2 linked regions of the Homo sapiens genome follow. The protein of the gene in region 1 purifies or fractionates together with the protein of each later gene. This does not show direct contact. Each region holds a gene or a part of one and is shown in the gene's direction. Other genes may lie near its edges. The genes, in order: WFDC10A and ZZEF1.

Region 1 (3,916 bases):
ATTATAAAGGATATCACAAAGGATACAGAGGAAGAGGTGCATAAGGTGAGATATGGGGAAAGGCTAGAGAGCTTCCATGCCCTCCATGAGCATGCTGCTCTCCAACAACCTCTAAGTGTTCAGTGGTAGCCACCTGGAAGCTCTGACTTATATATTTTAATTTGAAATTTCTGTTCAGTTTTGAGTAATTGTCTTTTTTTAGACTAATTTCTAATTATTTCCATTATAGTCTGAAACTATGTCCTTTGTGATGTAATTCTTTAAAATTTTGTTCAGACTTTTTTTATAGCCTAATGTATAGTCACTTTTTGTACATGTTTTATTTGTGCTTGAGAAAAATGTGTTCCTCTAGTTTTTCTATGCAGACTTCTGTATATTTTAATTAAGTCAAGCTTATTAATCATAATGTTCAAATTACCCATCTCTTTACTAAATTTACTACTCTATCAATAATTTGAATGTATAAAGTATAGACCTTCTATATACCCATAAATCTTTCCCCTTATAAATGTCAGTACTTGAGCCTGCCACAATGTTGACTAGACTGCTTTAACAGAAAGCCTCCATCACATAATAACTGAAATACAATATACTTTTTATTTCTTGCTCAAATAATAATTCAAAATGAGTATTCTAAAACAATGGGTATCCTTTTTTCATGTGATAAAAGAAGTCAAGGACCCAGGCTCCTTTCACCTTTTGGCTTCACTAGGCTCTAGAACCTTGTTGTCATCTATACTGAGCTGGTGGAAAAGAAAAAGAGTGTGAAAGAGACTTGCCATCTTCTTAGGGTCTTGACCTAGTAGTGACAAGTCTGTTAGCCAAAATATTTACATTGTGGCACTGGCTGCAAGATGCTTGGGTAAGGAAAATGCAGCTTCTATTTGAGATGATGATTCTCCTCTATATAACCCCTCTTTGCTAGGATAGTTATGACAGTGTCCAGTCTCTAAATTGTTCATTTATGAGTGGACAAAAAGAAAAACTAGGAAAGAGAGAGCCTTTGGGAAGGGTCAAATACCACTCTGTAAACTATAGGTACAAATATCAGAATTTTTGAATTATAAAGGATATCGCAAAGGATACAGAGGAAGGTGCATAAGGTGAGATATGGGGGAAAGGCTAGAGAGCTTCCTTTGAATGTAAATTACAACTGTGGACTGAAGGAGTCTGCATTAGGAGTTCAGAATGTCAGAAAGAGGTTCAAATCTTTAGAAGATTATCATCATCAGAGGAAGAGGGTGATCTTCTTCCCAGCTTGCATGCCTACTGGGAGTCCAGTGACCCTAGGTTGTCCCCTCTTTCTCCTGTTAGGGAAGAAGAAACATCTTCACTTCTGAGAGTTCATTTCCTTCATGATATTCAAGGTCAGTGACCACCTCCTCCTGGACAGCCTGCCAAGCCTTTGACTGATAGGTCTCTCCCCCTGTCTGAGCTCTAAGATATTTACTATGTTTCTCCACTAGCCCTTCTGTCCCATGCCCTACAATAGTCTCTCTTTCTGTGTGTTTATGTGTGTTTAAATTTGTATATGTATATCTGTGTATGTGTTTATATACATTTATATATGAAACAGCTACTTACTCTTTCACTCAGGAATTCTAGCTCTCTTAGTCTAAAGAAATCAAAGATTTATAAATAAAAATAATATGACATTCTCTAGATTATTAGTAATTAGTACAATACAAATACTTGATTATTAGCATTTGAGAGCTGTGCAATTATGAAAATCCACATTTTGAGAAATACTTACATGATTAAATAAGGGTGGCAAAAATAGATAACAAAAGTTGTTTATATTAAAAGGATTGTTTATATTAAATATGGAGAGAAACTAAAAGATAATGCAATGAAACATCAGTTAATTCTAAGCAACTCTTTTTAACAATATATTTTTTCTTTTCTTTTTTCCATAAAACATTTTGTAATTAGAAAGCAGAAATAAATGATATCTTTCATTCTATCGGCAAGAACACAAGACTGGTTATGTGAAAGGAGGAGGCGTCATTCCTGCGGAAGCCCTATCCCACATGACGAACGACAAGGCCAGGGGCAAGCAAAAAGAGGAAGGACTCTCTTGCTCTGCTCCGACTTGGCCAGTAGAGGCAGTGAGGAGCTAAAGATCATTCCTTCTTTCCTTCCTTCACTCTCCGTAGACAGCTCTGCAGGGAAGTCTGTGACAACCTGGCCAGACATAGGGCTCACGATCTGATCAGAGTCATGGCACCCCAGACTCTGCTGCCTGTCCTGGTTCTCTGTGTGCTGCTGCTGCAGGCCCAGGGAGGATACCGTGACAAGAAGAGGATGCAGAGTAGGTGATGGGCTGCTGGATGGGTGAGGGGGAATTGGGTAGGGGGAATGGAGGGCCTGTGTCCAGTCTGAGTAGGACCTAGGAGTTGGAAACTCTCTGCATATCCAGCTCTGACCACAATGTTGTGTAGACTCTGGACTGTCCCTAAACCATGGCCCTCCAGCCCCTTAGCTGGCCCTGGGAATAGTAATGGGAATGAAGAAGAAACCTGCATATTTTGCTGTTCCTTCTCAATACTTAGAGAGAAATGGCACATCCCATAGTGAAAGGCGCACCAGGGCTGAGAATCCAGTGGGGAAAGCAAGACAATTATTATTTGATTTATGCACATTTGTGAGGAGTAAAGATTCAGAAGTGGTTATGACGGTAGGTGTAGGTGTAGAATGGGTATAAGTGTAGGGAAATAGGACATAAGACAAGCAAAAGTTGGGGTACACAGAGCCAAGTTAAGGTTATCATCAAAGGGGCAAGGAGAGTGGTGGTGGAAAGGGAACTAAAGAAGGGGCAGGAAGACTAGAGACAGTGACAGTGAGCAGAAGAGAGGGAGAGACAAGAGGCATGTTGATCCTCATCTCTGAATTCTACTATTCAGAGACTAGGAGAGAGTTTGAAAGATGTCTCATGCTTCTTTGAGCTCTCAGGATCAGACTGTAGATTCTTTGGTGGTGACTTCACCAAGGCCATGACTAGTAAGGGAGATGGAGTTCTGATTGCTGGTGTGTGGAGAAGGTCCAGGAAGCCCAGGCATTGTGGTCTAATGGGGTAAGGTGTACAGTGGAGAGACAGGATTTAAAATATGACCAATCACTAGGATTTGGTGATGGGCAGGAAGGTAGTTCTATGAAGAAGGAATCCAGGAGTATCATGACTGAGACCTGGGTTCAAGGGTCTTGGAGGAGGCTTCAGCTTGAGAAAAATGTTCTCTAGGAAACTGCGTTTATTTACCGTTCTATTCTCCTTGTCAGAAACACAGCTATCCCCAGAAATCAAAGTCTGCCAGCAGCAGCCTAAACTATATCTATGCAAACACTTATGTGAATCTCACCGAGATTGTCAAGCAAATAACATATGCTGTTCTACCTACTGTGGGAATGTTTGCATGAGCATCCTGTGAGTGGGAGAGTGGGCTGGGATGTGCATCCTGCTTCCCAACTCCTCTATCCAAGACTGTGCCCACATCCGAAGCACAAGGACCTCAAGTCACCAGCATAAGAACATCAACAGGAATGCCGCCCTCTCTACTGTCTGAACCCCTTGTCCCTGTCAAATAAACCAGAACAAATGCCCAGGGATCCTACCTCTTTTGCTGCCACTACAGATGATCATTGAGAGCTCACTGTGGCCCCTACAGATGCCCCACTTGTCTTGCGTCCTGGTGTTCAATTTCTCTCCCTGGCTATGCTTCTCTACCCTCCCTCTCCCTCTTTGGCCCACGTATCCCTGCCAGCCCTCAGGATGCCCAGCCCCTTGCTGTTTTGCTCACTGAACCAGTACTCCCAGGGGGAGGAACTGCTCATGTGCAGCATCTCCTGATGCTAAGGAGAACATTTCTCACCCTGGAGTCAGAAGGACCCATTAAGCATGAGATGGGTGGCAGTTAGAACC
Region 2 (3,916 bases), on another chromosome or scaffold:
TCTACTATATAATATATTAATTATTTTCTTTGTTTCGGTAGATGTGGGCCAGTTTCTGGCAAGCATGAGAGCGATTTTGGAATCCCTTTTCTCACAGTACAGTGGAAAAACCATAGTAGAAAGATTATGTAACTCAGTGTTTTCAATGGCAGCTCGTCAACTGGTAAGAAAAACTAGCAGCTATTTGTAAAGAACCGGAAGGGGGTTGGGGGTCTGCATCCCCAGGCCCAGCCTAAGGTGGACGCTGAGTGCTTCATCCATCTTCCATTAGGTTATCTTCCTGCTGGACTTCTGCACTTTAGACATCCCACACTGCGTGCTCTTGAGAGAGTTCAGCGTCCTCACAGAACTCCTGAAGAAGCTCTGTAGTGGCCCCGAAGGAGGACTGAGGAAGGTAACTCGAGTCAGCACTTGAGCCGCCCCGTGTTCTCTCTCAGGAGTGATGGGACACACTTAGTGAAGTGGACCACGGACTGCAGATAGGCACAGCTGAGCAGCCTCTAGAAGGCTCCCTTGATTTTATCAGTGGGCTTGCCAACAAGGGTGAATGTCAGTCCAAGTCGATGTGGCCTGGTCAGCATTAGAAAGGAGACGCAGAGGCCGGGCGCAGTGGCTCACGCTTGTAATCCCAGCACTTTGGGAGGCCGAGGCGGGCGGATCACGAGGTCAGGAGATCGAGACCATCCTGGCTAACACGGTGAAACCCCGTCTCTACTAAAAATACAAAAAAAATTAGCCGGGCGTGATGGTGGGCGCCTGTAGTCCCAGCTACTCGGGAGGCTGAGGCAGGAGAATGGCGTGAACCCGGGAGGCGGAGCTTGCAGTGAGCCGAGATTGCGCCACTGCACTCCCGCCTGGGCCACAGAGCGAGACTCCGTCTCAAAAAAAAAAAAGAAAGGAGACGCAGAAAAAGCTGTAGAGATGAATCTCATCATTTTATAGTTGATGAAGTTATATAAAAACCATGTAAGTGAGTGACAAAATTGAAGTCTAGAAGAGAAAATGTATGTTGAAAGGCAAATTACATTTTGTCTTTAGAAGAAATTTCTCCCTTACTTAATTATACATACATAACGTTTAATCACTGTCTTGTGTGAGCTTCTTCTTGTGTGTCTTTTGTGTGCCACAGAGCACAACTCTGTGGCAGTAGAAAAGGCATTTATATTTAACAGGTAAAAAACCAAAGGCCCCCCCCCAACCCCCCGCTCAAAAGAAAAGGGTAGGAGAGGAAGGGAGAGTAGATCCAGATTTGCCAGTGTCCCAGGTAGGAATGTGAGGTCTTTAAACTCCTCATTCAGTACTTTTTCCACTGGGAATTCACACTGGTAATGATTTGTAAGTAGTTCTGTCATAGCGAAAAGGTACAAGCTGGTCATGGAGTTTTTGTGTGTAATAAAAGCACATCTCCTCGGCTGCGTGGTGGACGTGTGTTGATCTGTGTGAAGATGGGAATGTCAGGTTTGTCTTCGAGCCTGCCTGCTGGTTTGTGCAGGGCTGTCAAGGCCATCTGCCTGGAGCACTGATAGAGAAACAGTCTGCTGCATGTGGCTAGGTGTCTAGTGATAGAACCTTTCTTTCCCCTGGCTCATTTGTTATCATAGCTGGATGTTGAGACCTGGCAACAGGAACAGCCTGTGGTGTTACATACGTGGACGAAGGAATCTGCCCACAACTATGAAAATAATTGCCATGAGGTATCCGTCTTTGTTAGCCCAGGGGCAACCTATTTTGAAGTGGAATTCGATGACAGGTGTGAAACTGAAAAAAGGTAAGACTTCTATATTCTTTCACCCCCAAGCGCTAATAGGTCAGCAATGAGAGAAGGAAGCTAATAGAGGTTATGCCTTCACAGGTATGATTATCTGGAATTTACCGACGCTAGAGGTCGGAAAACACGCTATGACACAAAAGTTGGCACTGATAAATGGCCCAAGGTGAGTGATAGTCCCAGAAAGAGGTACCTACTTCTGCACCAATGCTTTTCCTTTTGTCAGCCTTCAGGGGGCAGTAGAGGTAAGGTCTTTGAAGGGAGGCATTTATGTTACACGTTTGTGAAAGGAAGGATTTATATCAGAGTTTGACCAGCTATAGTCTGTCACCTGTTTTGTAAACAAATTTTTTTGGAACACAGCCATGCCTGTTTATCATTTATAGCTGCTTTGGCACTGCAGTGGCAGAGTTGAGTAGTTGCAGCAGACAGCGTTGTCTAGAGTAAATGAAGAGCCTTCATCCTTAGCAAGAAGTGCTGGTGGGTCTAGGAGGATGGCCCAGACCATGTGATGGAAGCCAAGAGTCTGCCTCACAGTTAGAGCTGCTTGAGCTCTTGGGCTGGAGGTTTAGTACTGCCTCAGACTGTTGACCTTCTCTCCATGGTCAGTGGTCTTGGCAGGAGCAGAGGCATGGAAATGTGACCACTGGCTGAGTCGGTAGTGGACAGATGGTCACCCCAGGTGTAGAAAGCTGAGCAGCAGTATTCTGCCAACTCTCCTTCTTCATGGGGTGTGGCTGTGAATGGTCTGTTTCCGTCACCCCTTTGTACATTTCTCCGTTAGTCATTTTGGACATGTGGAAATAGAGATCAATTTTAAACTGAGATGTTTCTCGTCATGAAGAGCATGCTGATTTCTGAAGCACTCCTCCTCTAATCTGTCTGACCACATGATTTCTGTTTGTCTCTAGAAAGTGACCTTCAAGGCCGGTCCTCGGTTGCAGTTCCTCTTTCACTCTGACAGCAGTCACAACGAATGGGGCTACAAATTCACTGTCACTGCCTGTGGGCTGCCCGATGTTGCCGTGTCTTGGGGGCTGGATTTACAGCTCCTCGTCTCCCGGCTGATGGGACGCCTGGCTTCCCAGTGCATGGCGCTCAAGTCTGTGCGCCGTAAGTGCACATCCCTGTGCTTTCCCTTCTTACAACCACGGTGAAGTGCAAGATGCGCGCTTGCCCTCTTGTAGGTCGTTTCCACGTAATGGCAGGGGGTTAATAATACGCCTTTTCAGTTTCCTTTAAACCGAAAGAATAAAGTGTCCACTCAATACCATTGTCACGAAGCTTTTTGCCTTAGACTTTGGAACATAGCAGGAAGGCTGCCATGGGTTCTCTGTCTATGGAGGATAACAGCTTTTTTTTTTGGCAACATTGTCATTTTTTTGCAAGTAGGTGTAGGTATAGTCCAACCAAAAGGCAGGAGTATAGAATAAGTTGATTGCATATCCTTTAAATATGTGAATATTTATGTAAATATATGTAGATATGTGACTATGGATTTTGTTTTAAAGTGATTCATTCAGGGCTGAGCAAGGTGGCTCATGCTGGTAATCCCAGCACTTTAGGAGGCCAAGGTGGGAGGATTTCTTGATCCCAGGAGTTTGAAACCAGCCTGGGCAGCATAGTGAGATCCCTATCTTTACCAAAAAAAATGTAAAAATTAGCCAGGTGTGGTGGCATATGCCTTTTGTCTCAGCTACTTGGGAGGCTGAGGCAGGAGGATCACTTGAGCCCAGGAGTTAGAGGCTGCATGCAGTGAGCTGTGATCATACTGCTGCACTCCAGTCTGGGTAACAGAGAGAGACTCTTGTCTCTTAAAACAAAAGGAAAAAGATGTGTTCAGTATAATTGTTTATTTAATTCTTCCAGGGAACAAGAATTACAGAATAAAACTTTCTACTGTATTTTATTTCTTGATCATTTCTTGAGTTTTTCCAGTTTTAGAAGTAAAATATAGAAAAATTACATAGTGGAAAAAAACAAAGGAAAATAGAATCATCCTTAATCCTAACACTCAGAAGTAACTGATTTTTTTAATATTTCTCCAAGAAAGAAAGAAATAGCTATTAGCATTTTTATTTCCACCTATTCTTTTCTCTTTGCCTATTCTAAACACATCTATGCTGGATATTTATTATTTGCTACAGA

Evidence for each region.
Region 2: the proteins of WFDC10A (region 1) and ZZEF1 purify together in Homo sapiens (affinity purification with mass spectrometry; 2 studies listed by BioGRID and IntAct, with this or other methods). This does not show direct contact.

Annotation. Positions count from the first base shown.
Region 1 is NC_000020.11:45,627,594-45,631,509, forward strand, and holds WFDC10A (WAP four-disulfide core domain protein 10A precursor), read left to right. Parts: upstream 1-2,145; 5' UTR 2,146-2,220; coding exon 2,221-2,311; intron 2,312-3,276; coding exon 3,277-3,425; 3' UTR 3,426-3,603; downstream 3,604-3,916.
Region 2 is NC_000017.11:4,073,115-4,077,030, reverse strand, and holds part of ZZEF1 (zinc finger ZZ-type and EF-hand domain-containing protein 1), read left to right. Parts: intron 1-41; coding exon 42-163; intron 164-271; coding exon 272-394; intron 395-1,601; coding exon 1,602-1,768; intron 1,769-1,852; coding exon 1,853-1,934; intron 1,935-2,679; coding exon 2,680-2,881; intron 2,882-3,916. UniProt on the Homo sapiens protein: Histone H3 reader which may act as a transcriptional coactivator for KLF6 and KLF9 transcription factors.